Linked DNA regions of Homo sapiens: region 1 is reported to be linked to region 2. The links are microRNA targets in miRTarBase. Many come from high-throughput screens and were not tested one by one. Region 2 holds a microRNA gene; the other region holds the end of a gene's coding sequence.
Evidence for each region. Region 2 holds the annotated microRNA hsa-miR-183-5p (UAUGGCACUGGUAGAAUUCACU, at 1,748-1,769, shown strand). A microRNA usually pairs through its seed, bases 2 to 8, with sites in the 3' UTR of a target mRNA and lowers its output. Matches are read on the target gene's strand: a 7mer-m8 pairs with bases 2 to 8, a 7mer-A1 pairs with bases 2 to 7 and ends in A, and an 8mer does both.

Region 1: miRTarBase lists PTPN11 as a target of hsa-miR-183-5p. Seed matches in the 3' UTR shown: 7mer-A1 at 2,673-2,679 and 7mer-m8 at 3,292-3,298.

What each region holds. Positions count from the first base shown.
Region 1 is chr12:112,503,844-112,507,869 of GRCh38, forward strand. It overlaps PTPN11 (protein tyrosine phosphatase non-receptor type 11), which reads left to right. Exons shown (of 16, transcript NM_002834.5): 15 at 852-953; 16 at 1,982-4,026. The coding sequence ends at 921. Among named protein-coding and RNA genes, the nearest start is that of PTPN11, 87 kb to the left of the region's middle.
Region 2 is chr7:129,772,710-129,776,735 of GRCh38, reverse strand. It overlaps MIR183 (microRNA 183), which reads left to right and starts at 1,722; the gene lies at 1,722-1,831. It overlaps MIR96 (microRNA 96), which reads left to right and starts at 1,967; the gene lies at 1,967-2,044. RefSeq lists an enhancer at 2,642-3,503.

The sequences.
Region 1 (4,026 bases), not on the chromosome of region 2:
TCCTTACTCTCCTGGACTGCTCTGATGTCATCTCCCTGCTCAGCAGAAAGAAGTCTGGGATCTTGATGCTTTGGCCCTCTGTCCTAGGCCCTAAACCACCCATTGCCCTTCACATAACCTGAGCTGGGGCTAAATAGATCTCTCATCACTGCCTGCCTGCTCCTGTATTTTCCCTTCTTGGAGCTTTTGCCTGTTCAGATCCCTCTACTGGAAATTAATAGGATTTCATTCTATGTGTGCATTTCCAACCTTTCTTCACAGTGCGATCCAAATGCCTCATCCTACAGGCCTCCTTAAAACAACCTGCTTTCTGCCAGACCCCAGGGAGCACCAGGACTTGAGGCTTTTATTGCACTTCTGTTGTTTTTTTGAGATGGAGTCTCGCTCTGTCGCCCAGGCTGGAGTGCAGTGGCACGATCTCTGCTCACTGCAACCTCCATCTCCCGAGTTCAAGAGATTCTTCTGCCTCAGCCTCTCAAGCAGCTGGGACTACAGGCATGTGCCATGACACCCGGATAATTTTTGTATTTTTAGTAGAGACGGGGTTCACCATATTGGCCAGGCTGGTCTCAAACTCCTGACCTCGTGATCCACCCACCTGGGCCTCCCAAAGTTCTGGGATTACAGGCGTGAGCCACCATGCCCAGCGTTATTTCACTTCTGCCTCTGTAATTATATTGCTGTATGGCTATCTCTTCTCTCCCTGGGAATGTCAGGTCCTAGGCACAGGAACTGTGTCTGTACCATATCTGGTGCCCAAAGAATGTAGTATGTGTTTTATAGATATCATGTAAGCTTAAACAGCGTGGTCTACATTTTTGTAAATGTCTTTCTTTTTCTTTTCTCTCCAGAATGAGAGAAGACAGTGCTAGAGTCTATGAAAACGTGGGCCTGATGCAACAGCAGAAAAGTTTCAGATGAGAAAACCTGCCAAAACTTCAGCACAGAAATAGGTATTTAAATGCAAGTGCTCTATTGGTTAATTGTTTATATAATTGGCAGTATTTTTAAGCAGGCAAGCAATTTGGGAATGTTTTAGCAAAGTGTACCATAATTGAGTTTTACAAACCAGGCTCCTTTTTCCTCTCCCTGTACTTCTTTTTCCAAGATGGTTTTAGTTTAGAGTTCATTAAACATTAAAATCAAACACAGAATTAATTCTGCATGAGGCAAGGCTAGCACTTATTCCAGAGAAATGGCTGATACTGGTGGTAGAGTGCAGGTATCACTGTTCCTGCAATTTTTATTAGAGTTGGTTAGCCCAGGCTGTGCTGGGGGATGATCTGTAGGGATCTGGGAAGCATCGGGACTCAGCACTGGGTGGTTGGGAGTCAGGAAGCCTGAGTTCTCATTTCAGTCAGTCTCTGACCAACTGTGTGGCATGGGGTGCTAGACCACTTGGCTGCCGACTGGGTCACCGACATCCCTTCCAGCTCTGCTGCTGGAAATTCATCTCTCCCATATGTTGCCTCCCCATCAATTACGTTTTTTAAGTGTGACCCAAGTATATGATGTATGTTTTCATGATAAATTAGAAACTTATCTGGGCATGGTGGCTCATACCTGTAATCCCAGCACTTTGGGAGGCTGAGGTGGGCGGATCACCTGAGGTCAGGAGTTCGAGACCAGCCTGACCAACTAAAATAGTAGAGACCAACCCGTCTCTACTAAAAATAGAAAATTAGCTGAGCATGGTGGTGCATGCCTATAATCCCAGCTACTCAGGAGGCTGAGGCAGGAGAGGCAGCGGTTGCAGTGTGCCAAGATCGCGCCATTGCACTCCACCTGGGCCACAAGAGTGAAACTCCATCTCAAAAAAAAAAAAAAAAAAAAAAAAACTCAGTGTCAGTATTTCATGTCGAAATTCCACTTCAATGGGTAGTGTAGTTAAAAGCTCTAAGTCTACCTTAAAATCACCTAATGCTTTGTTAAGCTTTTAGATATATGTTCCTTAAAAACTCTTAACTTATTTCTTCCCCAGATGTGGACTTTCACCCTCTCCCTAAAAAGATCAAGAACAGACGCAAGAAAGTTTATGTGAAGACAGAATTTGGATTTGGAAGGCTTGCAATGTGGTTGACTACCTTTTGATAAGCAAAATTTGAAACCATTTAAAGACCACTGTATTTTAACTCAACAATACCTGCTTCCCAATTACTCATTTCCTCAGATAAGAAGAAATCATCTCTACAATGTAGACAACATTATATTTTATAGAATTTGTTTGAAATTGAGGAAGCAGTTAAATTGTGCGCTGTATTTTGCAGATTATGGGGATTCAAATTCTAGTAATAGGCTTTTTTATTTTTATTTTTATACCCTTAACCAGTTTAATTTTTTTTTTCCTCATTGTTGGGGATGATGAGAAGAAATGATTTGGGAAAATTAAGTAACAACGACCTAGAAAAGTGAGAACAATCTCATTTACCATCATGTATCCAGTAGTGGATAATTCATTTTGATGGCTTCTATTTTTGGCCAAATGAGAATTAAGCCAGTGCCTGAGACTGTCAGAAGTTGACCTTTGCACTGGCATTAAAGAGTCATAGAAAAAGAATCATGGATATTTATGAATTAAGGTAAGAGGTGTGGCTTTTTTTTTTTTCTTTTTTCCAGCCGTTGACCAATTATAGTTCGGCTGTTGACTGAGAAGTTTGTGGTGGGAAAACGTTTGCCATATTTTCTTTGCATTTGAATAATTGTCTTGTACTTAGAAAAAAGGCGTCTATGAATGACCAGTGTTTTTGGTCGCCAAATGTTGCTGACAAACTTATCCCAAAACTTTAGTGGCTTAAAAAAACCTGCCCCCAACTGTTAGTCAATCTGAGCTGGGCTCAGCTGGGCTGTTCTTCTGCCAGCCTGCAGGTGGCCACTCATGTGGTCAGCAGGTCGGCGGAGAGACTGGGATGGCTGGGCTTCTCTCTCTGCCTGCAGTCCTGAGTCTCTCCTTCTTCGTGTAGTCTCTTTCAGTGGCCTGGCTGGCAGGGTAGCTAGACCTCTCACATGCAGCTCAGAGCTCCCAAGAGCTCAAAAGCAGAAATGGCCAGGCCTTCTGAAAACTTAAGTCCAGAATTGTCACAGTGTCCCTTCTACTTCCCTCTATTGATGATGATGATGATGATGATGATGATGATGATGATGATGATGATGGTTTTTTCTAATCAGAAGAAAGCTGGGGTATGCCCTCTACTTACTAAACAAGTCACAAGCCCAGCTCAGATTCAAGAAAAGGGTGTGAAGTAGAGGTGCAGTTAAGTGGGGGGCCACTAGTCTAACAGACGGTCACAACCAGTGCCATGGAAAACCAAGGATATTAGCAAAAGCAGAAGTTGCTAGTGACCTTGGGAAGCCGAAGCTGCTTACAGTAGCTGGGACAAGCTGAAAGTCAGACTAAGAAATAAAGAGAGGGCCTTCAAGAAGCTTCCTGAATGATTTCTGCTAGCCCTGAGCCTATTTTTGGAACCAGCACTTGGGGAAACTGATCTTGTGAGGATGGATGTGTTTAGGGACACAGGGCTTTTGAGAGCAGCACCACCCCACTGGGGCATCCCCAGACTTGGGAAACGTGACTCTTTCTTAATGCCACTGGGTTTTAGTCAGGCCACAGTGAGAAGGAACAGCCCTAACAGGCCTCCAGCCAGGTTGAATGAGCTCATTTTTGTTGTAGCCAACCAGTAAGATTTGCTAATGTTCTACATTAAGTGCCTTCTCCAAAGACATCCCTCTTTGCCTCATATGTTGAATCATCCAGTGCGGATATTTCAATGAAAATATCATTGGTTGACTTTTGTGATGGTAATAATGCTATGGCATCTTTGCCATGAAGTTGTGGCCTCCTTGGATTCTTCTGACTTTGGCTTCTGAAAGGAAGGCCTAGATCCAGCCCTGGTGGTAGTTCCTTTCTGAGGTCTCTCAGTCCCTTGAGACTTTGGGGTAGTTTGGCTGCCATTCTCACTGACAAAATGTATATCAGCCCCCACCTCCACCCCCCAATATTCCTTGAACTTTGAATTGCTTCAGAACACA
Region 2 (4,026 bases):
TTACAGGTGTGAGCCACTGCGCCCAGCCAGAAGAAAGAAGAATTCTGCATTCTGTTTAATTATCCCAGGGTGAGGCTTCTTGGGAAAGATTTCTCAAAATAGATCTTCCCACCCCCACCCCCACCCCATGCTGAGCTGTCAGGGTGCTATTAAAATGCAGATTTCCAGGCAGGCTCAAGAATCTACATTTCAACAGGCTCCTTGGGTGATGCTTATGGCTACACCCTAAGCAATGTTCATAACTACCCACCCCATACTCTTTGCTAACACCCTGCCATCACCCCTTCCCCTCCCCACCCAAGGCTGGGAAGTCTGGTCTCTCTTCCTTAGTAGAGTTCAGAAAATTGTAGTAAGGGAAACTGAGGCAGAAGGCTGAGGAGTGACTTCCTGAGATCACCACCTCATCAAGCTGGATTGTCCTCTGGGGAGATAGACCAGCTAGAAGGGCAGAGCCCTGTAGTGGGGGTGTGTGGGAGCAGGACAAAGAGTCCTCGGGAGCAGGAAGGGTGGAGCATTAAGCAGTGTCTAGGGGAGAGCGGATGGCTTTGGCCAAGGTACCCAGATGGAGCTCTGAGGTCCACGGGAGGTAGTTCCTGGGGGTAACATCGCCAAGAGGTCTGCATAGTTTCTGGGCCAGGGCACCTGCTCTGACCCTTCCAGGATATTTTCTAGCCACCCTGCCTTCTGGGCCACCGCTGACCTGGAGTAGGCTGAGACTCTAGTGGCCACTCTGCGGAGGCCCCAGCTTGCCTGCCCTGGGTGCCAGCTCCCCAGAGACCCTCCCTCCCACCCTCTCCCTTCTTCCCGTCCTTCCCCAGGGCCTGTGACACCAGAGGCAGGGCCTCCACAGCAACTTCTCTCTAGGCAGCTGCTCTGGCAACCACTGATGCAACCTTCCCAGCCCCTCCCTCGCTCCTGAGCCTCCGCTTTCCTCCGCAGTCACTCCAGAGCCAGCCAGGAGCCACTCCCTTGCTAGAGTGCATCCGTGCCTCCGGCTCCCTCCAAGCCACCTGGGTGGCTGCAGGACTTCTCTTCTGCCCTCCTTTCCTGGCCTTTTCCTGCCTTGATCCTAGGCCGGCAGCAGAGATGCCCAGCCTGGGCGGTTCACAGTCTGGCCCAATCTGGTCTGGTTTGGGATGGGAGTGGGGGTGAGCAGCAGATTCGGTTTGTTCCTGGGGCTCTGTTTCTGCCACAGGGCAGGCTGGGGGGTGGAGGATAATGGAGACCAAAGTGCCTAGGAGCCTGGGCTGCTGGTGTCTGGGCTCAGAGGCTACGAGAGGCATCTTGGATGTCCCACTGGTCACTGCCCCTGTGGCAGGTTGGGTAGAGAGGAGGCTCTGGCCAGCTGCTTGCCTCTCCGAGCCAGAGTTACTCTGGCAAGGAGATGGATGGTCCTGACCCACTCCCTCCCCAGCCTGGAGGCGCAGTCTGGGTGATGTGGAGGGATGTGGGCCTTCAGGTGGAGATAGGAGACACCTTGGTGTGGTCTTCTCCTCTGCAAGGCCAGAAGGTCAGCTCCTCTCCCGCACTGTCCCTGTCTCCTTGAAGGTCATCTTGGGCTGATGGGGCATGTGGATCTTGTGAAGAGGTGGGATGGGGTGGGGGGTAGAGACCGTAGCAGCCGCTGCTGAGGGCCTGCTGGGGGGCCCCCAAGGGAGTGGGCAGGCTAGGAGCAGGGAACGGGCATCGTGGGCCGCTGGTCTCTCCGCAGGGTCGGCAGGCCGCAGAGTGTGACTCCTGTTCTGTGTATGGCACTGGTAGAATTCACTGTGAACAGTCTCAGTCAGTGAATTACCGAAGGGCCATAAACAGAGCAGAGACAGATCCACGAGGGCCTCCGGAGCACCTTACCCACTTCTGCCTTGAGTGCTCCTAGACGTCGGAAACAGGCTGCTTCCAAGGGTGCAGGGATGCAAGGCCCCTCGTCCAGTGTGTCCCCAGAGAGCCCGCACCAGTGCCATCTGCTTGGCCGATTTTGGCACTAGCACATTTTTGCTTGTGTCTCTCCGCTCTGAGCAATCATGTGCAGTGCCAATATGGGAAAAGCAGGACCCGCAGCTGCGTCCGCCTCCCCTGCATCCTTGTGTCAGGGCCCCAGCCTGCTCCTCCTCAAGGCCTCCTCACCGCCTCCCCAGCCCATCTGGCTCAGCTGCTGTGTGAGGGCCCAGCGCTGGTGGGCAGCCAGATCGCCTTACACTGCCTGGGGCCACGGTAGAGCTGGGAGCCCAGCAATCTGAGCTGGGCCAGCAGATGGGGCCGCCCAGGGCAGAGGTGGGGGAGTCTGAAACCATCTGTAGGGCCATCCTGAATGGTGCCGTGGGTTGGAAAGGCCCAGCCAGGCTCCCAGCACACGCTTGGGGTGAGACCTTGGCTGGCAGCACAGGGCCTGGTCTTTTCTGCTGCAGGTTGTGAAGGGGGCAGCTCCAGGCAGGTGGGCTGCCCTTGAGGTCAGCCTGGGTGTTTCCAGGGGGGCTACCGTCTCTGGAGCTGTAGCCTGCTGTGGAGTGGGTCATCTCCGAACAGCTCCAAGAGGAGGATACTTAGTGGGGCTCGGAGTTGGAGGGCATTTTCAGGCCTGCCCCTAGAAGGTTCTGGAGCAGAGGCCAATGTTCCCCTTCACACACCACACACTGGTAATGTAGCTTCCTGGGTCCCTGGATCTGGGCTATGACTAACTGGCCTATGCTCTCCATCTGGGTGTCAGGTGACATTACATATATAATCCCAACAGTTCCCACCTCAGCCCTGTGGGGCTTGTAATTTTTTAAAATAGTTATCTCATAGATGGGGAACCTGAGGCTTTGAGAGGAAAGGCTTGGCTGAAGAGGTTGGTGAGTGGTAGAGCTGGGTCACTGTGGCTCTTCCGCCACCAGCCACACCTTCCATGGAGGCACCCAGGGCCTGGAGGTGTCTCAGCTCTGAATCTACAGGCCTGGGCTCCCAAGGATGCCCCAGATGGCAGAGACTGAGGCTGGGAGGCCTGGACCTAGTCTGTCAAAGCTGGGGAGAGCCTGGCCAGCCAGGCTGGACCCATGTGAAATCTGGTGGTCAGCAATCAAGCAGGAGACCAGTGGCCGACTTGGGACCAGCTGGGAGCTATCATGCCCCAGGTCACTGGGCCAGCCCCTGATGGGGCTGCTTCTCCCCAGGGAGCCTCAGGCAAGGGTTGGTGGACTTAGCCCAGATCAGTGGGAGTCATTTTAGGTGTCTGAGCCAGGGAGTGCCCGGGTGGGGGATGTGTGTGGTTGAAGCTGGCAGCTGGAGGATGACGGGTCCAGTTGACTGCACAGCAGGAACATGGTGACCAGTGCTGCCTGCCTGGGTGCCCTGGGGACTGCCTTGGGTGGGTTGGGCCTTTTTTTTCTTGTCAGTTAGCTATCACCAAACCGCGAGGAGCCCCCAATAAATTCCCTCTGGGGTGTGGTGCCCGTGTTTCTCTACAGAAGCTCTCCAAGCCCCTGCAGAAAAAAGGAGGGGCTTGTTTATTTCAGGATAGAAGGGGACTTCTGCCCTGGTGAGGTGTCCCTGTAGCTAGGTCTCTCTTCTGATGGCCCCAGCTCTCCCTCTGCCCCTCGGAACCTGGCTGGCCTGTGCCGCACCCTGTCTCTGTGCTCCAGTCCTCCGCCCCGGGTGCTTCCTTAGGGCGTCCTGCTGCAGGTCCCATGGGATAGGAAAGAAGGGATTTCCCGGCCTGAGTGAGAATGAGCCCTGGAGGTGGGGTGGGCACAGAGACCCAGCAAGGGGGGGTGGAAGGCCCCTGGCAGTGACCGGTTCTAGAGCTTTTCCCTGGAGCCTCTGGAGTGTCTGGCCAGGGTTCTGCTCCTTCCTGCCTAGCGGGGAAGGCCGGATGACAGAAGCTGCCCTCAGCCCCTGGGTGGTCTGCAGCTGGGCTCCACCTCCTCACACCTGCCCAGGTGGGCGCCTTTGCTGAGCCCCGAGTGCAGGCACTGGTGTGGGGGCGTGCCTCCACCAGGCTTCAGGCCCGGCTGCTCTGGGGCCCTGCTCCAGCGCTCCAGGGGAGGACCT